4 separate regions of the Homo sapiens genome follow, and all the other regions are reported to be linked to region 1. The links are microRNA targets in miRTarBase. Many come from high-throughput screens and were not tested one by one. Region 1 holds a microRNA gene; each other region holds the end of a gene's coding sequence. Distances are between the middles of the regions.

The links. The annotated mature microRNA hsa-miR-544b reads ACCUGAGGUUGUGCAUUUCUAA and lies in region 1 at 4,139-4,160, shown strand. An mRNA with a match to its seed (bases 2 to 7 or 8) in the 3' UTR can be bound and repressed. Matches are read on the target gene's strand: a 7mer-m8 pairs with bases 2 to 8, a 7mer-A1 pairs with bases 2 to 7 and ends in A, and an 8mer does both.
Region 2: the mRNA of GON7 is a reported target of hsa-miR-544b. The part of its 3' UTR that is shown has no 7-base or 8-base seed match.
Region 3: miRTarBase lists PCCB as a target of hsa-miR-544b. The part of its 3' UTR that is shown has no 7-base or 8-base seed match.
Region 4: miRTarBase lists MACC1 as a target of hsa-miR-544b. Seed matches in the 3' UTR shown: 7mer-A1 at 2,446-2,452, 7mer-m8 at 1,586-1,592 and 7mer-m8 at 1,217-1,223.

The regions. Positions count from the first base shown.
Region 1 is chr3:124,728,348-124,733,783 of GRCh38, forward strand. MIR544B (microRNA 544b) reads left to right here and starts at 4,092; the gene lies at 4,092-4,169. UMPS (uridine monophosphate synthetase) reads left to right here and starts at 2,105. Exons shown (of 6, transcript NM_000373.4): 1 at 2,105-2,280. The coding sequence starts at 2,125. It also overlaps the pseudogene RPS26P22. RefSeq lists enhancers at 1,763-2,362, 1,775-2,184.
Region 2 is chr14:93,199,459-93,204,676 of GRCh38, forward strand. GON7 (GON7 subunit of KEOPS complex) reads right to left here. Exons shown (of 2, transcript NM_032490.5): 2 at 3,436-4,324. The coding sequence ends at 4,230. Among named protein-coding and RNA genes, the nearest start is that of GON7, 5.0 kb to the right of the region's middle.
Region 3 is chr3:136,329,474-136,334,691 of GRCh38, forward strand. It overlaps PCCB (propionyl-CoA carboxylase subunit beta), which reads left to right. Exons shown (of 15, transcript NM_000532.5): 15 at 432-696. The coding sequence ends at 553. Among named protein-coding and RNA genes, the nearest start is that of PCCB, 82 kb to the left of the region's middle.
Region 4 is chr7:20,136,349-20,141,566 of GRCh38, forward strand. It overlaps MACC1 (MET transcriptional regulator MACC1), which reads right to left. Exons shown (of 7, transcript NM_182762.4): 7 at 1-4,810. The coding sequence ends at 4,598. MACC1-OT1 (MACC1 3' UTR overlapping transcript 1) reads right to left here and starts at 4,078. Exons shown (of 6, transcript NR_110114.1): 1 at 3,969-4,078.

The DNA of each region.
Region 1 (5,436 bases):
ATCTTGGCTCACTGCAACCTCCACCCCCTCGGGGTTCAAGCAATTCTCCTGCCTCAGCCTCCCAAGTAGCTGGGACTATAGGCATGTGCTACTATGCCCGGCTAATTTTTGTATTTTTTGGTAGAGACGGGGTTTCATCATGTTGACTGGGCTGGTCTCGAACTCTCAACCTCAGGTGATCCACTTCCCTCGGCCTCCCAAAGTACTGGGATTACAGGCATGAGCCACCACACTCAGCTCTACCAACTTTTTATCAAGTGTTTTTGAGTGAACTATCTTATTGAATCTTCATAGTGATTTTTGGAGAAAGTTAATATTATTATCTTCATTCTTTTTTTTTTTTTTTGAGCGCAGTCTGGCTCTTTCGCCCAGCCTGGAGTGCAGTGATGCGATCTCGGCTCACTGCAAGCTTTGCCTCCCGGGTTCACACCATTCTCCTGCCTCAGCCTCCCGAGTAGCTGGGACTACAGGCGCCTACCACCATGCCCAGCTAATTTTTTTGTATTTTTAGTAGAGACGGGGTTTCACCATGTTAGCCAAGATGGTCTTGATCTCCTGACCTCGTGATCCGCCCGCCTCAGCCTCCCAAAGTGCTGGGATTACAGGCGTGAGCCACCGCGCCCGGCTTCTTCATTCTATTTTTGAGAAAATTGAGACTCATATAGCTCAAAATGCATTGCCAAAGATCACTCAGCCAGTAAGTAGAATGGGACTAAAATCCAAATGTTTTGGTTTGAAACTTCATGTTCTTTGTAGTGCACTATACAGCTATGCCTTATCTGTTCCTCTTTTTTAAAAAAGTATTTGTTATAGTTGACACATGATATCGTACACATTTATTGGGTACATAGTGCTATTTCAATACACACAATGTACAGTGATCAAATCAGAGTAATTCATATATTCCTCACCTTAAATATTTATCCTTTCTTTGTGTTGGGAACATTCAAACGCCCCTCTTCTAGCTATTTTAAAATATATAGTAAATTATTATTGACTACAGTCACCCTACAGTGCAATGGAACACTAGGACTTATTCCTCCTATCTAGCTGTAATTTGTGTCCTTTAACCACCCCCTACCCTTCCCAGCCTCTAGTGATTACTATTTTATTCTCTAGCTCCATGAGATCAACTTTTTTAGCTTCTGCATATGAGCGAGAACATTTGGTATTTATCTTCCTGTTCCTGGCTTGTTTCACTAACATAATGTCCTTCAGGTTCATCCACCTTGCTGCAAATGACAAGGTTTCATTCTTTATGTGAATTTAAGGGTTATTTTCCTTAAGCTAGAATAAAGTATTGCCTTATATACACAATGGAGAAGGGATTTATTTGTACAGATTATTTATTGATTATTTCTTTAAGGGATTTATTTGTAAAGACCAAATATGTTTGGATTTTCAGATTGTCTAGCAATATTATCCTCCTGGATAACCCTGATACCAATCAATTAACCGTCTTCTAACTCTCCTCCTTCCCTCCCTTACCTTTTCTACACCTATTACCTAAGCATTTGAGGTACGCCAAAGGAAATAAAAAAGTACTCCTCCAGGAAGCAGAGTACAGACAAAAGAGGTAATGAATACTGTAATGATCTAAGTGCTATATATTCCTATGTGCAAACTGCTATGGAACTGTCACGTACTAGATGCTATGAAGTTAATAAAAGAATTGAGTAAAGGTCCCTGTCTTTGATAACTTATATTCTATTTGGAGAAACATGGGGGGTAAATCTTGGCTAATAACTAGCAAATATAACATGTTAGGCCAAGGAGTAGAGATAATTAAGAGAACTAGTCGAGAAGGCATTGGCTATTAAAAAATGGACAGGATTTATGCAAACTCTCATGAAAGGTGGGACTTCATGATCCTACAGTCAATCTAGCTGTTCTGGGCTTTGAACCCCAGCGACCCCATCCAGAAGAAACCAGGAGAAGCACAAACTGGCGCTAGGTTCGCTACCATCCACCTGACCCTTGAGCCCGGGGAAACCCACGGGTGCAGCAAGCCGGGAAAGCTGCAGACGAGGCAGGCGGAAGAGGCGGGACTTCGCGGGTGACGTCATCGGGGCGCCGGAGGCCCGGGGCGCCTGGGAATTTGAAGCAAACAGGCAGCGCGCGACAATGGCGGTCGCTCGTGCAGCTTTGGGGCCATTGGTGACGGGTCTGTACGACGTGCAGGCTTTCAAGTTTGGGGACTTCGTGCTGAAGAGCGGGCTTTCCTCCCCCATCTACATCGATCTGCGGGGCATCGTGTCTCGACCGCGTCTTCTGAGTCAGGTGCTGGCCTAGGAAGGGAAAGGACAGGGCTTGGTGGCGGGAAGGAGGACAAGGAAATGGAAGAGGGTGACAGGAGTTGGGCCGTGAGTGAGAGCAAAAGAGCCAAGCAGGCAGACCGACCCTACTCTTGGTTTGGGGAGTAAGCATGAGAAGCACAGAGGCCAGGGGTTGGGCTCCTCGAGAGTCGTCTGTTCTTTCACCCACACGCTTAGACACGTGTTTTGCAAAAGTCGGGAAACCCAGTTTGGAACGCTTTCTGGCACTGAAGCACACTTGAATGAATTCTGTATATTTAACTCTTTAAGAAAATTAGACTTGCGGCCGGGCGTGGTGCCTCATGAGAGTAATACCAGCACTTTGGGATGCCTAAGTGGGCAGATCACCTGAGCCCCAGGAGTTCGAGACCAGCCTGGGCAACATGACGAGACCCCGTCTCTACAAAAAATTAGCTGGGTGTGGTGGCGCACGCCTGGGACGCTGAGGTGGGAGGATCACCTGAGCCTGGGAGGTCAAGGCTGCAATGAGCTGTCATTGCGCCACTGCACTCCAGCCTGGGCGACAAGTGAGACCCTGCCCTCAAAAAACAAACAAATAGACCGGGAAAACGTGGGTAGGCAGAGAATTCAGTAGCTGGGAAATTACTGGTGAGAAAAGGAAAATAGAACAACCAGAACTCTGTGATGTATACAAAATTTATCAGAGCCCAGAGAGACTTCAACCATACTCCCCTATGCAGCCCCGGGACAATTATTTAAAGGAATTTTGTCCCTGACTAGCTGCCTCTCCCATTATCTTAATGTACCTGGAATGTGTGATACAAAGAACAATGTATAGCTAATCAATCGCTTGTGTTATTATTTTATTTATTTATTTTTTAGATGGGATCTCTCTTACGTCACCCAGGCTGGAGTGCAGCTCTGTGATCATAGCTCACTGCAGCCTGGAACTCCTGGGCTTAAGAGATCTTCTTGCCTCGGGTGAGCACAGGGGCTCATGCCTGTAGTCCCAACTTTGGGAGGCTTTCTTTGGGAGGCTGAGGCGGGTGGATCACTTAAGGTCTGGAGTTCGAGACCAGCCTGGCCAACATGGTGAAACCCTGTCTCTACTGAAAATGCAAAAATTAGCTGGGCATGGTGGTGCACACCTGTAATCCCAGCTACTCAGGAGGCTGAGGCAGAAGAATCAGGAGGTTGCAGTTAGCCGAAATTGAGCCACTGCACTCCAGCCTGGGCAACAGAGGGAGACTGTCTCAGAAAAAAAAAAAAAAAAGAGATCCTCTTACCTCAACCTCTGAGTAGCTGGAACTACAGGCATGTGCCATCATGCCCACCAAATTAAAAATTTTTTTTTTTTGTAGAGAGGAGGTCTCACCATACTGCCCAGGCTCGTCTCAAACTCCTGGCCTCAAAAGATCCTCTTGCCTTGGCGGCTTCCCAAGTAGCTGGGACTACAAATGCCTGGTGCCACCCCCGGGCTACCTCCTGTTATTTCAATGCAAATTCTTGGTGAATATAGGAACTGCCCCTTCTTTTGCTTTAAAAATCCACTTGTAACTACTGTAATCGAAGCCTATAGTCAGGGCAACTACTCATATTAATTTTGCCTCAGCCTCTTCCTGTTAGGTCCACACTTGGAAGGGCTGTTTGGAAAGGGGAGTTGAATTTTGCACTGTGCGGCCAGAAGCAATAATTAAGACTAGAAGGTGGACATATTGGGAAAGCAGGTTTTTAGTCAATATAAGGAAAATTTTTGTACAAATTAGAGGTTTCTAATACAGTGCTTCTCAACTTTGAGTATATATGAATTACCTGGGAATTTTGTTAAAATGCAGAATCCATTTCTGTAGCTCTGAGACTAGACCTGAGGTTGTGCATTTCTAACAAAGTGCCAGCTGAAACTGCAGACCACACTGAGTAGAGGGCCGTAAATATGCTTTCCAATACAGTTTGCTACTAGCCACGTGTTACTATTGAGCATTATGAATTTTTAAGTTTAAATAGTCATATATGGCCAGTGGCTATCATATTGGACTGCAAAGATAGAGAACATTTCCATCATTGCAGAAAGTTCTATCAAGAAGACATATAAGTTTCCTCAGCCCACTTAAGGGTTTATGTTCACTAGGGACCACTTTGTGTGGTTATTGTAAAAAGTATTGAAGATAGGTTGGACTATTAAGGTTGCGGTACTTTGGACCATTAACTTCTCACCATCCAGAATCTTGCTATGGTGTATCTTAGCAATGTGGAGAATTACTAAGGATTTTCTAGGGAAAAATTGATTTATTTTAATAAGCCAGCTGATAAATGACAGAAAAAGTTTTTTGATAACTAGATCATGGTGTGTGTGTGTGTGTGTGTGTGTGTGTGTATTTTGGTGATTAACTGGGGAGGAGTTCAAAACATGGAGAGACTTGGGTATAACAAAACTTCTTTTCACATCTTATGCGAATAGAATTTCTCAGTATTTACACCCCAAAAAGCAATATAATTTATGCTAAACTCTAACTTCCCTTAATAAGTGATAATAAGTGATATTTGACTATAGTACTATATACACATTAGTGTACATAAAGTAATTGGAGAGGAAAGGTAGCATTAACTCACTAAAAATGCATTTTCCAAATCTGTTTTTATCTCTCTGTCAAAATTTGCAAATCATGTTTGAATTAATCATATGCTTGTTATAATTTAATGATATACAGAAGAATTCTCTTCTTTAAAAAGTACAATTTCCATTTTCTTTTCCTCAAGAGAATAGTTTCTCTTCAGTCCTTAAGGATTCAGCTCCTTACATGGGCTTTGGTGAGGGTCATGAGGCAGCACCCACAGGTTTAAATCAGATTGGGGTATTTGGTCCTTGTGGGATTCACAAGATGGATTACTGACTGCCTTGCTGTGAATGGCACAACTCACACCTTAATGTAGCTTCGCATACAGCTTGGGAAGAACATAGGAGGCAAAGTTGCTCACTGCAGTAATGTCCCTGACTGCTGCGGCCTCTACTATGTTTTGCACGACGAGCTTCTTAATGGTCTTTTCCTTGGGCATGCATCGGACATAGTATGTGCCACTACTGGCCACAGCCCTTTTTGGCACGATCATTGTTCCTTTCTTTTCTTTGTCATCTTGGAAGTAAGGACCTGAGAGAGCTACA
Region 2 (5,218 bases), not on the chromosome of region 1:
CTGAATGCCCATTTCTAAATGGAGAGGCGGGGGAATTGATTTCCTCACATACATTTTTTTTCCTACTTTTCCAAAGTAAGTTTTTCTTCCCAAAAAGGTTTAAATGTCTTAAAATTAATTTTGCACCAACCTAATATTATAGCCAAGCAACCACAACCTATTATAAAAAAGTTCTCGTCCTTGGCCACAGAATTCTATTATTAAAATAAACATTTCTGTGACGCAAAAGGACTTACTTTTAGAAAACACATCTATCTTGCATAAATTCCATATGTTTCACATTTTAAAAGATTTATCTAAGTCTAATGTCAAGCTTATTTTTAGGTAGGATTGTGCGGCTGACTTTCCTGTTCAAAAGTAAAGTTGGAGCTGTTTCAAAGAGTAACTTTATTCTGCTTGCCTGTGGCTGTTTGTACCACAGAAGGCAGATTTGTCAGGTGCGGTGGCTCATGCCTGTAATCCTAGCACTTTGGGAGGCCAAGGCAGGAGGATCGCTTACAGCCAAGAGTTTTAAGACCACCCAGGGCTACAAAGCAAGGCCCCCATCTCTACAAAAAATTAAAAAATTAGCCTGGCAGCTGGGCACGGTGGCTCACACCTGTAATCCAAGCACTTTGGGAGGCCAAAGTGGGTGGATCACCTAAGGTCAGGAGTTCAAGACCAGCCTGGCCAACATGGTGAAACCATGTCTCTACTAAAATACAAAAATTAGCCAGGCGTGGTGGCAGGCACCTGTAATCCCAGCTGCTTGGGAGGCTGAGGCATGAGAATCGCTTGAACCTGGGAGGTGGATGTTACAGTGAGCCAAGACCATGCCATTTCACTCCAGCCCGGGCAAAAAGAGTGAAACTCCATTTCAAAAAAAAAAAAAAAAAAAAATGGCCGGGTGCGGTGTCTGTAATCCCAGCACTTTGGAAGGCCAAGGCGGGTGGATTACCTGAGGTCGGGAGTTTGAGATCAGCCTAATCAACATGGAGAAACCCCATCTCTACTAAAAATACAAAATTAGCCTGGCCTGGTGGCGCATGCCGGTAGTCCCAGTTACTTGTGAGGCTGAGGCAGGAGAATCGCTTGAACCTGGGAGGTGGAAGTTGTAATGAGCCAAGATTGCACCATTGCACTCCAGCCTGGGCAACAAGAGCGAAATTCCGTCTAAAAAAAAAAAAAGAAGAAATAAGATAAAAAATAAATTAGCCTGGCGTGATGGCACACACCTAGTGCTTGGCTGCTTGGGAAGCTGTGGTGCGAGGATCACCTGAGCCCAGGAATTCCAGGCTGCAGTGAGCTGATTGCGCCACTGTACTCCAGCCTGAGTGACAGTGAGACCCAAGAGCAGCAGCAGATTAGGCAACTTGGCAAAGCATTTCTTCTATACTGGTCCATCTTTGTCAAACACATGGCTTACTTATGAAGAAGACAGTATTAGAATTGAAATCAGTATTAAAATTAATTAAAAGACCAATCTTATAAATCAGAACCTAAAAACACTGGGACACAAACACAAATATTATCTTGAAATTTCTTCTTTATAACCACATTTTCCAAAGGAGGAAACATAAAATGTTCAGAGAAAAGGTTCAAATATCAGTTTAACAATGTGCTCTCTTTTCAGTATATACAGGTAAGTTTTTTTCTTTTCTTTTTTGAGATGGAGTTTCGCTCTTGTTGCCCAGTCTGGTGTGCAATGGCACCACTGGCTCACTGCAACTTCTGCCTCCCAGTTTCAAGCTATTCTCCTGCCTCAGCCTCCCAAGTAGCTGGGAATACAGGCATGTGCCACCACACCAGGCAAATTTTGTATTTTTAGTAGAGACTGGGTTGCTCCATGTTGGTTGGGCTGGTCTCGAACCCTCGACCTCAGGTGATCCGCCCACCTCGGCCTCCCAAAGTGCTGGGAATACAGCCATCAGCCACCGTGCCCAACCAGTTTTTTCTTTAATGATTGTATAGAGATAACAGTACTATAATAAATAAGTTAAATGTTAGAAACATCAACATAAACTAAACAAAGATAATTTCTGACCATCCATAACTTTTTCTAGTTGGCACTGTTTTGATTGCCCAAGAGTACTTAGTGGAAGGCTGCTTGCTGTTCCAACTAAAACAATATTTCAAGGATATGAAAAAGTGTGTAAATTGAGTTTCACTTAAATTATTTCACAATAAAAGTGATTCATAAAAGTTGATTAGTCCGGGCATGGTGGTTCACGCCTGTAATCCCAGCACTTTGGGAGGCAGAGGTGGGCAGATCCCTTGAGTCCAGGAGTTCTAGACCAGCCTGGGCAACGTGGTGAAACCATCTCTACAAATACAAAAAAATTAGCCAGGTGTGCTGGTGCATGCCTGTGGTCCCAGCTATTTGAGAGGGTGAGGTGGGAAGATCACCTAAGCCTGGGACTCGGAGGTTGCAGTGACAGTGAGCCGCGATCGTGCCACTGCACTCCAGCCTGGGTGACAGAGTGAAACCCTGTCTAAAAATAAAAATTTAAAAAAGAAAGAAAGAAAAAAAGGCTACGCACGGTGGCTCACGCCTGTAATCCCAGCACTTTGGGAGGCTGAGGCGGGCGGGTCACGAGGTCAGGAGTTCGAGACCAGCCTTACCAACATGGTGAAACCCCATCTCTACTAAAAATATAAAAATTAGTCGGGCGTGGTGGTGTGCACCTACAATCCCAGCTACTCAGGAGGCTGAAGCAGGACAATTGCTTGAACCTGGGAGGTGGAGGTTGCAGTGTGCCCAGATCGCACCATTGCACTCCAGCCTGGGCAACAGAGCAAGACTCCATCTGAAAAAAAAGTTGACCCTGGGAAAAAAAAAAAAATTGACCTGGCGTGGTGGCTCATGCCTGTAATCCCAGCACTTTGGGAAGCCAAGGTGGGTGAATCACCTGAGGTCAGGAGTTCGAGACCAGCCTGACCAACATGGTGAAACCCCATCTCCACTAAAAATACAAAATTAGCTGGGCGTGGTGGCACATGCCTGTAATTTCAGCTACTTGGGAGGCTGAGGCAGAAGAATTGCTTGAATCCGGGAGGGAGAGGTTGCAGTGAGCCAAGATTGTGCCACTGCACTCCGGCCTGGGCAACAAGAGTGAAACTCTGTCTCAAAAAAAAAAAAAAAAAGAAAAAAAAAGTTGATCTTCTCTCACCTTTTATCAGCTTAAAAAAAATCTAAAGGCTATTTATGTAACCCAGTTTGTCAATGGTTAGCTCTGTAATCTGAGGGCAAATACTTATCCTTAGATTTATCTCTGAAATAAATCACATAATTTGTAAAGTGACTTCCAACTCTAAAATTCCATGACTATTTGTATTTTACTAGGTACATGCTACTTGATTTCTTTGCATTGAAGCTATCTAAATCAGGAAGGATGCACAGCAAATAAAAATGCCTTAGTCCCACTGACGAGCAGAAAAGAAACACACACACATACATATTTTAGGAATATATATTTTTAAAAGGATTCAATAATCTTTTTAAAGCAAAATCAAAGTATGGCTACAGGAGGAGAGGAAATATCCAAATTGTAATCAATGCAGATTGTTTACTTAAGGCCTTATATTTGTACCTGTATAAATACCATATCACAGCACAAAAACATACCCCATCTGGCTCTCTTAAGGTACATGATAAATCAGACTAATGCACATTCATCAAAGTGGCATCATCTCAGGATATGTGCATATTTGACGTGGGTATGAATTCAGGGTTTCCTTGGGTCTCTTTCAAGGACTCTCCTTTCTCGTCGGTATTTCTATTTCCTTATTTTCCTTCTGTTTATGAAGAACTGTTATTTTTATATTTAATGCCCAATTTTCACTACTTGTTCATGTCAGTTCTCTGAAATGTTACTGCCTATGAACCGTGACATGTACTCTTTATAACAGAACCAGAAGTTAAAAGATGTAGACATCACACAAATCAATGATTATTTTAAAAATAGAAAACAATGATAAAAATTCAGTTGCCAACTTAGAGGATTTTATACATTATGAAGTGTTCTATTTTCCTTCCAGGGTCTGAAATTTATTTCTCAAGAAAACAGATTTTATTTCTAAGCCTTTACTATCTTTGCTAGAAACAGAAAAACCAGTTTTCTCTTTGACAAAATTGTCCCAGGAGAACAACACAAATGCTTTTTCCAAATTAGAGCATAAGTCTTCCTTAAATGTCCTAGTGTGACAATAAGGATACAACAGCCATCTTTTAAATGTCATGAAGGCTATTGTTAAGACGGTGTTTTTGGCCGTTTTGCAGATGGTCCATCGAAGTTAGTTCTGTTATCAATGTTATTTTCATCTTCTGCATCATCTTCATCATCACCTTTTAAAATAAATATTTGTTGTATGACAATACGTTCTATGGCTGAAAGAAATATATATAGCTAAAGTGGTTGATAATGAGACCATTTCACTTTAGGGATTAATAAAACCTGCACATTTTAGATTAAAATGATTTTGAGAATTTCAGTGTTTAAAATCTTTATTTTCTATCACTTTCCTCTTTGGAAATATTAGTTCATTCACCATAAAATCCACTCTTTTTTTCTTTTTTTTTGAGATAGTCTTGCTCTGTCGCCAGGCTGGAGTGCAGTGGCACGATCTCAGCTTACTGCAACCTCCGCCTCCGGGGTTCAAGCGATTCCTCTGTCTCAGCCTCCCAAGTAGCTGGGATTACAGGCACGCGCTACCACGCCCGGCTAATTTTTTGCATTTTAGTAGAGATGGGGTTTCACCATGTTGGCCAAGATGGTCTTGTTCTCCTGACCTCGTGATCCGCCCGCCTCGGCCTCCCAAAGTGCTGGGATTACAGGTATGAACCATTGTGGCTGGCCAAAATCCACTCTTTTAAAAAGTGTACGGCCTAGTGGTTTTTAGTATATTCACTAGCTTGTGCAACCATCACCTAGAACACTTTCATCACTCCAAAGAGAAATGATATGCCCATTAGCAGTCGCTTTCCATTCCCCTCAGCCTTCGGCAACCACTAATCTACTTTTTTTCCCCCTTATTAGAGATAGGGTCTTGCTATGTTGCCCAGCTAGACTCAAACTCCCAGGTTCAAGTGATCCTCCTGTCTCAGCCTCTAGAGTAGCTGGGACTACAGGTGCCCACCACTGCACCTGGCTCACTAATCTACTCTATCTCTATGGATTTGCCTATTCTGTACATTCATATAAACAAAATCATGCAACATGTACCCTTTTGTGTCTGGCTC
Region 3 (5,218 bases), 12 Mb from region 1:
AAGAAAACTCAACAAGGTTAAGCGAAGGAATACAAATCCACCTCTTGAAGAGAGAAGTGGTAAAGTCACATTGCAGGACTTGTGTACAAGGATGAATTGTTATAGCCATTTTTGAAAACCTAGATGTATTTTCTTTATTTCCTATTGAATTCATTGTGGCAGGATGGAGGCATTGGAGCAAGCAGGGTATAGGGAGGGTGTCCGATTTTCCTTTTCTTGCCAAGTGCTCCTAGGCCAGAAGTTGGGGAGCTGTCAGAACAGGCCAGCTCCTGGGATACAAGGGGGAATTCACAGGGCCTACCATCTCTGTATCAGGTTGGGCACTGCTTATACTGCTGGCCCCAGGGATGGTGCCCAGGCTGAGCAGAAGGTTGAGGGGTGGCATCATCTCGGGATGCAGATGATCCACTCCCTTTTCTGTGCTTCACCAGGGTTTGTGGATGACATCATCCAACCTTCTTCCACACGTGCCCGAATCTGCTGTGACCTGGATGTCTTGGCCAGCAAGAAGGTACAACGTCCTTGGAGAAAACATGCAAATATTCCATTGTAAACAAATCAAAGGAAAAGAAACCAAGAACTGAATTACTGTCTGCCCATTCACATCCCATTCCTGCCTTTTGCAATCATGAAACCTGGGAATCCAAATAGTTGGATAACTTAGAATAACTAAGTTTATTAAATTCTAGAAAGATCTCTTTTGTGCCTTACTGTAAAATTATTTACTTTTTTAAACATTTTAAGTTGTATTTTTTGAGCATAAATTCGATTTTTTTAGGTGGAAATCTGAAAAATCAATACAACTAGAAAGAAAAATAGTACACAGTGTTATCATCTAGAGCTGATTTTTATTTCACACCTCTGGGTATTGTTCTTTTTCCTCTCGAGTTAGTTTTTTTATCCATAGGTGAGATATATAGTAAGTTTTTAAGGCAAAGTATTTCTTAGGCTTAAGTTTCCTTATTTTAAAAATAGGGTAATATGCCCTATCTATCTCCTAATTCCTCCATGAATTGAGGATTAAATGTGATGTTTGCAATTGTGGTATATGTGTTTAGCAGTACAGATGCTCAATAAGGCATAGCACCCTATGTTGACTCAGGTTATTTCCAGAAATGTGTTCTTAAAATTAAAAAAAAACTTTTTAATTGCGAAAATTTTCAAGCCGATAGAAATGTTGCAAGAAGTGTATTGTATCCACTTCACCTAGATTCTCCAGTTGGTAACATTTTCTCCATTTGCTTTATTTCTTCCATACGTAGATATATCTAATAATATATAATATGCATATAAGATATATCTAATTATATTATTAATATAATTAATGTATAATTATATCTAACATGATTATATATATTTATATATTTATATTATGTATTTATACATTATATAATTATATAATTGTATAACATATACAATATAATTATTTAATTGACCCCTTTGAAAGTCAGTTGCAGATTCGTGACCCTGTGTTCCTAGAAACTTGTATCTCCTAGGAACAAGGTCCTTTGTCTTACATAGTCTGTCGTTCATGACGTTGACATTTTTGAGGAGAGCTTACTTGCTGGTTATTTGGTAGAGTGTCCTTCAGTTTGGGATGTCTGTTTCCTGAGGTTTAGATTCAGATAAGACTAACACATATTCCTTTCAGTGCGTCACATTAGTAAGCACATTATGTCAGTTTTTCCTCCTGTTGGTAACTGATTCTGATCACATGGTTAAGGTCGTGGCTGCAAAGGTTTTTCCATGGTAGTTACCATTTTCTCTTTGTAACTGATAACTAATTTGTGGGGTATTATTTAATCTTGTCTGTCAATAAACTTTCACCTGGGCCAGGCGCAGTGGCTCATGCCTGTAATCCCAGCACTTTGGGAGGCCAAAGTGGGCAGATCACCTTAGGTCAGGAGTTTGAGACCATCCTGGCCAACATGGTGAAACCCCATCTCTACTAAAAATACAAAAATTAGCCGGATGTGGAGGCACATGCCCAGCTACTCAGGAGGCTGAGGCAGGAGAATCGCTTGAACCTGGGAGGCGGAGGTTGCAGTGAGCCGAGATCACACCACTGTGCTCCAGCCTGGGTGACAAAGCTAGATTCTGTCTCAGAAAATTAAATAAATAAACTTTCACCCAATAATTTTAGTATTCATTGATGATTTTTGCCTCAATCAATGATTCTGCATTGATTATAAAATGTTGAGTTTCTAACTCTCTCATATTTATTAGTTGGAACTCTAGGTAAGGAAGGGAGCTTTCTTTTCTCCTGTTTTTGTTTTCTTAGTATCATTTTGGACTTGATTTATTTTATTTTATTTATTTATTTTTTGAGAAGGAGTCTCGCTCTGTCGCCAGGCTGGAGTGCGGTGGCGCAATCTCGACTCACTGCAACCTCTGCCTCCCAGGTTCAAGCAATTCTCCTGCCTCAGCCTCCCGAGTAGCTGGGACTACAGGTGTGTGCCACCATGCCCAGCTAATTTTTGTATTTTTAGTAGAGACGGGGTTTCACCATATTGGCCAGGATGGTCTCGATCTCTTGATTTCGTGATCTGCCCGCCTCAGCCTCCCAAAGTGCTTTTAATATATCCCACTGATTTTTTTAGTATTTCGTTATTTTCTGACAAGATAATGCTCTAGGCTTATCTTGTATTTTCCTTGCCCAGCCCAGGAATCAGCAGTTTCTCCAAGGAGTTTCTTTAATAGGTATGTAGTAGTAGTATATAGTAGTTTCTTAGTTTCTTTTAGTAGGTATGTCATTTAGAAGCTAAAATTGGCACTAGGTATTCACACTGATACTGGATATCATTGCTTTGAGGCATTTCAGCAGACAGAACTAGGAAAATTTATGCAAATAAGTGTGTGTATATATATGTGGGACACATGTATATATGAATACATATTTATCATACTTTTAAATCATGAGTTCATACTGAAACTTTTAATCCAACACCATGGGTGCTTCTTTGCCTTCCCCCATTCTGTATTGTCTCTCTTACCACAGCAGTAATAACCCTGGCTCCCATTATTCTCAATATATTTCACTCATTTGCTCAGTGCTACCATAAATACAAGTTTCAGAATCACTACAGCTCTATCAACAATAAACCTTCTAAAGTTCACGACTTCTTTGTAGTTCATTTTGTCTTTAAACTGAAGATACATGGTTAAGCTACCTCAATTAGTAACTGAGTGGTTATCAATATGAATTAGTCCTTTTTGTTTGTAAACCACTTTAAAGCCTTTCCTCCTACACTGTTGACTTGATTTTACTAAGTTAAAACATTAATAGTTTTACCGAACTGGAGATTAAGTTTGAGCAGAAGTACCAACCATGGAGTGCTGATCCAAGATGCCCCCCCACCTCAGGCATCCTCTCTGGTGAAACCCCAGGGCCCTCCCACTACTGATGGCTTTCCCTTGGCTCCAGAGATCTGTAAGCACTGCTTGGACAGTGAATCATTATTTCAAGGTCAACTTAATGTGTGACTGTTTATTCTCCACTTTTCCCATTTCAAAAATATTTTCCCCTACCCCCCATTCCCAGTAGCCCTTAAGAGTCATTCTTTTTTTTTTTTTTTTTTTTTTTTTCTTAAAGCATCTTTCCACTCTCCTTCAGTCACCAATCCTAGTTGGGCTCTGAGGACTTTTGCAGCAGTCTCTTCACTGATCTCTGTGGCCTCCCACTGAGCTGGAAGTCCTGTTCTCAGCTACCATACTAACTCCAGATCCAGATTTTGTTGCATTCCTCTGCTCCAGCGCCACTTCCAGAGCTCCCTGTTCTCCAGAGTCCTTAGCCCACGTAGGTGGTCCTGGACAGTCTGTCCCTCCCTTGCTTGCCTAGTGAGTTTTCTGAGCCCACAGTTCTTGTTTTCGTGATCTCTGCTATGGTCCATAAAAGAGTACATACAAGCTCTTTTTTTTCTTTTTGGAGGTAAGAGTCCAAGAAGTGTTTCACCAGGTTGTGCAGTCTGGACACCGAGATGGTAGAGGGGCTGTAAGATGGTAGAGGAACCAGCTCAGGAGAGCAGCTGGGCTAGCAGCTTTACGGAAGCCTTGGATGGTGGGGAAACTCCCGTACAGAAACTCAGCTGGTCAAAGAAACTCAAAGCCACAAGACCTTGGAAGCTTTGTCAAGTGGACCAGCCTCCATGGACCACGGAATACCTTGAGAGTAATGACAGTTGAGTGTTCTCTTGTGTGGGAATGCCTTCCCCAGCTGGTGCCCTCACCTTAAAGGGAAAAAGAAAATACACTGAATTTTGTAAATGGGAAATACTTGGGTCCACTGAGCTGATAGCTGACAAGTGTCTGTCTTTAAACTGAGAGCAGATAATATGGTGAGCTGTGGTGTAGGAAGCACTGCTAGGGTCTTGCTGGTCCTGCCCCGCCTTGTGTTAATCCAGTTCCTCCTGAGCTACACAGCTGACAAGTGGTGAAGCTGGGATTTGAACTCAGATGGGTTTGACCCCAGCCAAGCCTGTGTTCTGATCATTTCAAAGTACTACCACTCAGCTGATGAGGAAGGTGAGATGGACTTCTAAGGGTTGGCCTAAGAGTAGGGGTGAGGGAGGTTGGTGGTCTGTTCCCCTGGGCTTGTCTTAACCCAGAAAGCTACTACATTTAGACAGCTTTCCTATCTCCCGCATGATTCTCTTGCAAAGCAGTACCAACAGATGGCCAGTCATCTTTTTGAGTTGCTAGAGTAATGGGGAGCACATCCACAATACACCCTTCTAATGCTTGTTAGAAAGTGCTTTTGTTGCAAAGTTCTTCTAGCTTCTTTTTTTGACCCTGTCTTGGTCTCCCCAGCCCAACTTTCTGCCTCTGGTTGCACTGATACTTTGTCCTGGTGCTGGTGCTTAAGATGTGGTCTGCTCAGCCAAAGAAGTCTGTGAAGGATACTCACCCACATGTGGAGTTGATGAATCAGCCCTCTTCACCTATTCAACAGATGTGACTGTTTTGTCTTTCTGGTTCCAAAGGATTTCTGGAGAGCTATGACTTTACCCTTTTAGAAGTATTGGTCCTCATACTCTGTGCACCTCTGATGTCAGCATGGGATTTCTACAATTCCAAGCAGGAGTTGCAGCCACTTGATAGGCAGTGCCTCAGTCTGGGGCCTCTGTGGAATCCAGCTGGCATATTCCAGCCAATGTGGCAGCCTCAATAGTTAGTTAAGTTTTGACCATGTCCCTACTGTCCTGGGTGGTGAAAATACTCC
Region 4 (5,218 bases), not on the chromosome of region 1:
TGCTAACCTCTCTGTCTCTACTCCCTCACATATAAACTGACACTATTATTCAAAATTACAAAACTATTTATTAGGGTTAAAACTTTCTAGATGTACATAAATAGAAAATCAATGTAAAATATACATGCAAAAGATACACATTTCTACAATGTTCAGTGAAATCTTGATGCTGAACATCAGATACATTTCAGATGCTGTATGTGTACAAATTCAACTTTCCTATGTATATGTGGTCACTTTATTTTGTGCTGTGGACCAGTAAATACATATGCAAGAAACAAACCTTCGACATGCCATTTGATTCTGAAAAAATGTCTTTGGATTATCCCACCAATCATATTGATGTTCTTTAGAACTTCACTCTCACTAAACCATACAGCAGCATGTGGGAGAAAAGTTCATACAGAAGGAGGAGGGACTTACTTCTCCTCCTTGCGATTATTATTGCGATTAAGGATTATTATTAATTCTTAAAGATTAAGATTATTATTAATTATTAATTGTAATTATTAATTCTTAAAGATTATTAATTATAATATTAAATTATATTATTAATTCTTAAAGATTATTAATTATAATATTAAATTATAATTATTAATTCTTAAAGATTATGAATTATAATATTAAATTATAATTAATTCTTAAAGATTAAGATTATTATTGTGAATAAGAAGAAAAATGATCTAATTTAATGTAAAAACCCTCCAGTGACATCATTGTTCATTATTCTCTTTTTCTTTTATATTACCTCAAAAATTCCTTAGATATAAACAATTACAGAAAACATAACAATAGCACAATATAAAAATTCAAGTCCTTCAACTTCCAGTTATAGCATTGTACAAATTTGAGTGTATGCATGTTCTCTTTTGCATGTTCACATTACACATTCAAGGCTGATTAGTAGCAGCAGTGTTTCTCAGCCCAATGCCATCCATTGATTTAGCATTCTATTCCTTCCAGAAACCTAGTCATCCCCAAACTGAGAACTTTATATAGTATGTTCTACATTACAGGCCATGAAAATGTGCTGTATCCATTTATTAGTATGAACAGTTAATGACACACTATTGAATGCTTCTACTTAATTGTTTCATATAAAGGCTTTAACACAAAGGAGGTAGAGGATCTGTGGCTTATACAGAAAAATTATTATGTTTCAAGCTGGGCACTTAATTCAAATCTTATCCTAAGTCACGCATCATTAGACAAAAAGCCTGAGGAACTGAAAGAACCATGTAAACATTTTCTGCTTTCAAAATGCTTAAAGAAGTTTTAGATTAATGGGATTTGATACTTTTAATGATGTCAAAGATGGTATATAAGTGCCTTATTATTTCATTGACTTACTGCCAAATATTGAAGGCAATTCATGATTACTAATTTAATCTTTTCTGATTATGAAAATCCATTATAGCAAGAAAAAATATAAAGTTCAGAAAAGTAGAAACTATTTATTTAAAAATTAGAATATATTTATACAAACAGAATGTTTGGACATGGGCTTAAAATTCCTCTGGAAGGCTGGGAGCAGTGGCTCATGCCTGTAATCCTAGCACTCTGGGAGGCCGAGGCAGGTGGATGACCTGAGGTCAGGAGTTCCAGACCAGTCTGGCCAAAATGGTAAAACCTTGTCTCCACTAAAAATACAAAAATTACCCGGACAAGGTGGTGCATGCCTGTAATCCCAGCTACTTGGGAGGCGGAGGCAGAAGGATCTTTTGAACCCAGGAGGTGGAGGTTGCAGTGAGTCAAGATTGAAACACCGCACTCCAGTCTGGGCAACAGAGCCAGACTCTGGCTCAAAAAAAAAAAAAAAAAAAAAAAAAAAAAATTTCCCCTGGAAGGATTTGTTACAAGATTATAAAATATATTTGTGTGTATTAATATTAGAACCATTGTTTCATCCTCAAATTACAGAGATCTTGTTTTTCATTTTTTTAAACTCTTATTATTCTCAATCACAATCATAATACATGATGCAATGTAAACCTTAAATTATTTATTTAATCTTACTACACTAATCAGCTAACAAGATCTCTGTCTTCTTAGATCTTGGAGCCTGGAAAAACCCAGTTATTAATCCCCACTATCCCTTCCCAAAATTCTCTGGTTAGCTGACATGTTAATAAGATTCCAAGAATGTTCTAAAGAAAGCAAAATCACCACAAAAAAGGACTGTGTTCTGAAAGTAAAAACTGTGCTTTTTTTTCCTTCTCTCATAATTTATTTTTAATTAAAATAAATTCTGTCCTTGAATGTGTATACATAATTATTTGGTCAGGCTGTGTTCCCTTATAATCAAATATAAATACTGAAAGCCGTACAGATTATTCCTTTTTTTTTTTTTGAGACAGCCTGTCACCCAGGCTGGAGTGCAGTGGCATGAACTCGGCTCACTGCAAGCTCCGCCTCCCGGGTTCACGCCATTCTCCTGCCTCAGCCTCCTGAGTAGCTGGGACTACAGGCGCCTGCCACCACGCCCGGCTAATTTTTTGTATTTTTAGTAGAGACGGGGTTTCACCGCGTTAGCCAGGATGGTCTCGATCTCCTGACCTAGTGATCTGCCCGCCTCGGCCTCCCAAAGTGCTGGGATTTCAGGCATGAGCCATCGCGCCCGGCCAAGATTATTCTTAAACGCCAATTTGAATTACCATTGCCAGCATACCAAATATCCCAGGGTGGGTATATTAAAAGCCCTAAAAAGATTCTGCTTTTACTTTTTAGCCAAATGGACATCTTTTATTCAGGTTCCCAAAACAAAATCCTTCTTTGGCTTACCCACATTTCTTTGAGGCTGTGTGTTTTCTTTCTAAATTCTAGCAGCCTTAATGGCCCTAATGTGGCTTCTTCTTGCTCCATCCTCATCTCAACCTTGAATCTTTTATCCTTTCACTCCTTCACCCCTGCTATCTGCACCTATTCAGCTCCCACCCATCTAAGAGCTTCAGTGCTTTGTGGGATCACCGCTTACACCCCACCACACCAGGACAATGCCTACTCTTCCTTGAGGTTCATTATTTCTTTCCAAGAACAAATTTCCCTGACCCACCCCCACTTCCAGTTTCACATGATGGCATCTCTACGTTTATATCTCGTAGCATCACAGCCTCTCCATTGCAACTGTTAGTATGCATGCCATTTTCTATTTAACGGTGTCATTTTTTAAAATTATCTATTACTTAGCACTACTAAAGTCAGAGTTCATGCTGGTTTTTTCCCATTAGCCTCAAGCATCTATATGCCTGCCAAAAAATAGACACATATACTCTACCTATTGACTGAATGACAATAAATGAATGTCTGTCCAAATACACACATAAACACTGGCAGGCAACCAGAGGATTGAACAGAGGAGTAAGCAAAATACATCTCTTTGTGAACTTTGTCAGCCATTAGCATTTATACTGACCCAGGGTCCTATACAATTTTTGTCCTATATAATCAATTAGGCTGTGCTTTATAAAACACTGTGGTACACACACACACACACACACACACACACACACACACATGTGTTTGCATGAGCATGCCAACATAAAGATATCAGTGTTTTCGGTGGTTAAGACCTCTCTACTCAACAGGGTAATCAAGTTAATCAAGTTTCTGGTGGTGGTGGTTTTTAATAACTCGTATTATTAAAAATCTCCAAGAGCTAAAGAACTATTTTACATTACAATCCTGCAGAAAAAGTCCCAAATTAGGCAGGATTAGAGAGGTCCCAAGATGCTGAAGGGAGCTGATGAAAACACTAGGTCCATGCATGCAGACAACAGATTTCTGATAAGTCATATTTTCCTTCTGTCAGTCTTTCAAGAGACGATGAAAAAGAGTAGCAAGTCTCACTTAAAATGAAACGGCAACTGTTTCCCTGTAAGTCTTAACACGCATTTTGTTTTTACTATTCTGTTATGCAGTATGATTTTTTAAAAAGAAATAGAAACAGGTTTTTCAAGCAGAAAACCTACTTTGTACTGGCTATGTAGCCTCAGACGTTCTCTCCACTTCTGAGTTTCTCCCCATGAAAAATGGGGGTGATGCTGGTGAACCCCACTGATGAACTGAAGAGGTCAGGTGTGGAAAGCGGGCAGCCGTGACTGGCCACAGGGTGTGTGCTTGCTTCCCCTCTTTCTAGCTGCCTCCTGGGAACACTGCCTTGATCATGTTGATAGTCTCTAGTTTACCCAGATATCTGTGTGATGTAATTATTCAAACAGCTTTGACTTAGTAAATTTAAAATAACACTGAAAGAGAGAGAGGGCACTTTTCTTTTTTCTTTCCTTTCTAAGAACAAAGCAGCCTAATACTTGTATTTGAAACATACACAAAAATACATATTTGAGGATAAAACCCATCTTGGTTATCAGTTAGGCTGTGCTTTCATCAGGAAAAAAAAACTGGTTTTGAGCATGAAGAAAATTAATATAATGCTTTTCTGAGATTCTTTCTTTCCTACACACACACACACACACACACAGACACACACACACAGACACACACACACAGACACACAGAGACACACACAGACACACACAGACACACACACACACACACCATTACCTCATTTTCCCTCCCATCAAAAACACACGCTTTGTTTCTATACTTCCTCAGAAGTGGAGAATGCAGTTACTCTCAAAACCTCCAAAGAATTTACTAGTATTAAAACTCCAGTTAATTCTCTCCAGTGTTTAGTCACAGGGTTTTTCATTCTGTCCAAAGCTGACTGAAGGTCTTGTAACACATCTCTGTAGTTATTTCCATAGTGAGCACTCCAGGTATACAGAAAATCATAGGCAGGTTTCCACATCATCTATAAAGAAAAAAAATAGATTGGAGTAGTGTGGAAGTAGAAAGGAGAGGAAAATCGTTTTTAAAAAAAAGATGTAAAAAGCCTCTTAAGATTTAAGATAAAACGGAATACCAATTACACATGGACTTATTTGATGTCATAGAAAATATGGTTTAATAACTATCAGCTTCCTGTTATATCCCTGTGTTTTTAAAACTAGAGATTTTAAAAATAATAACTACAAATAGGGCCTTTTTTCCCTTGATCCATCATCTATACATTGCTGTTGCTTTCATGTGAATATAAAATTCCTTGCACAATTTTTTGATGGTAACAAATGTTATTGAGATAGGCTTTTTACTATTTGAGAGACTTTTAGAGTTAATTATTATTATTATACCTATCTGTGGTGAGTTTTATGACACCAAA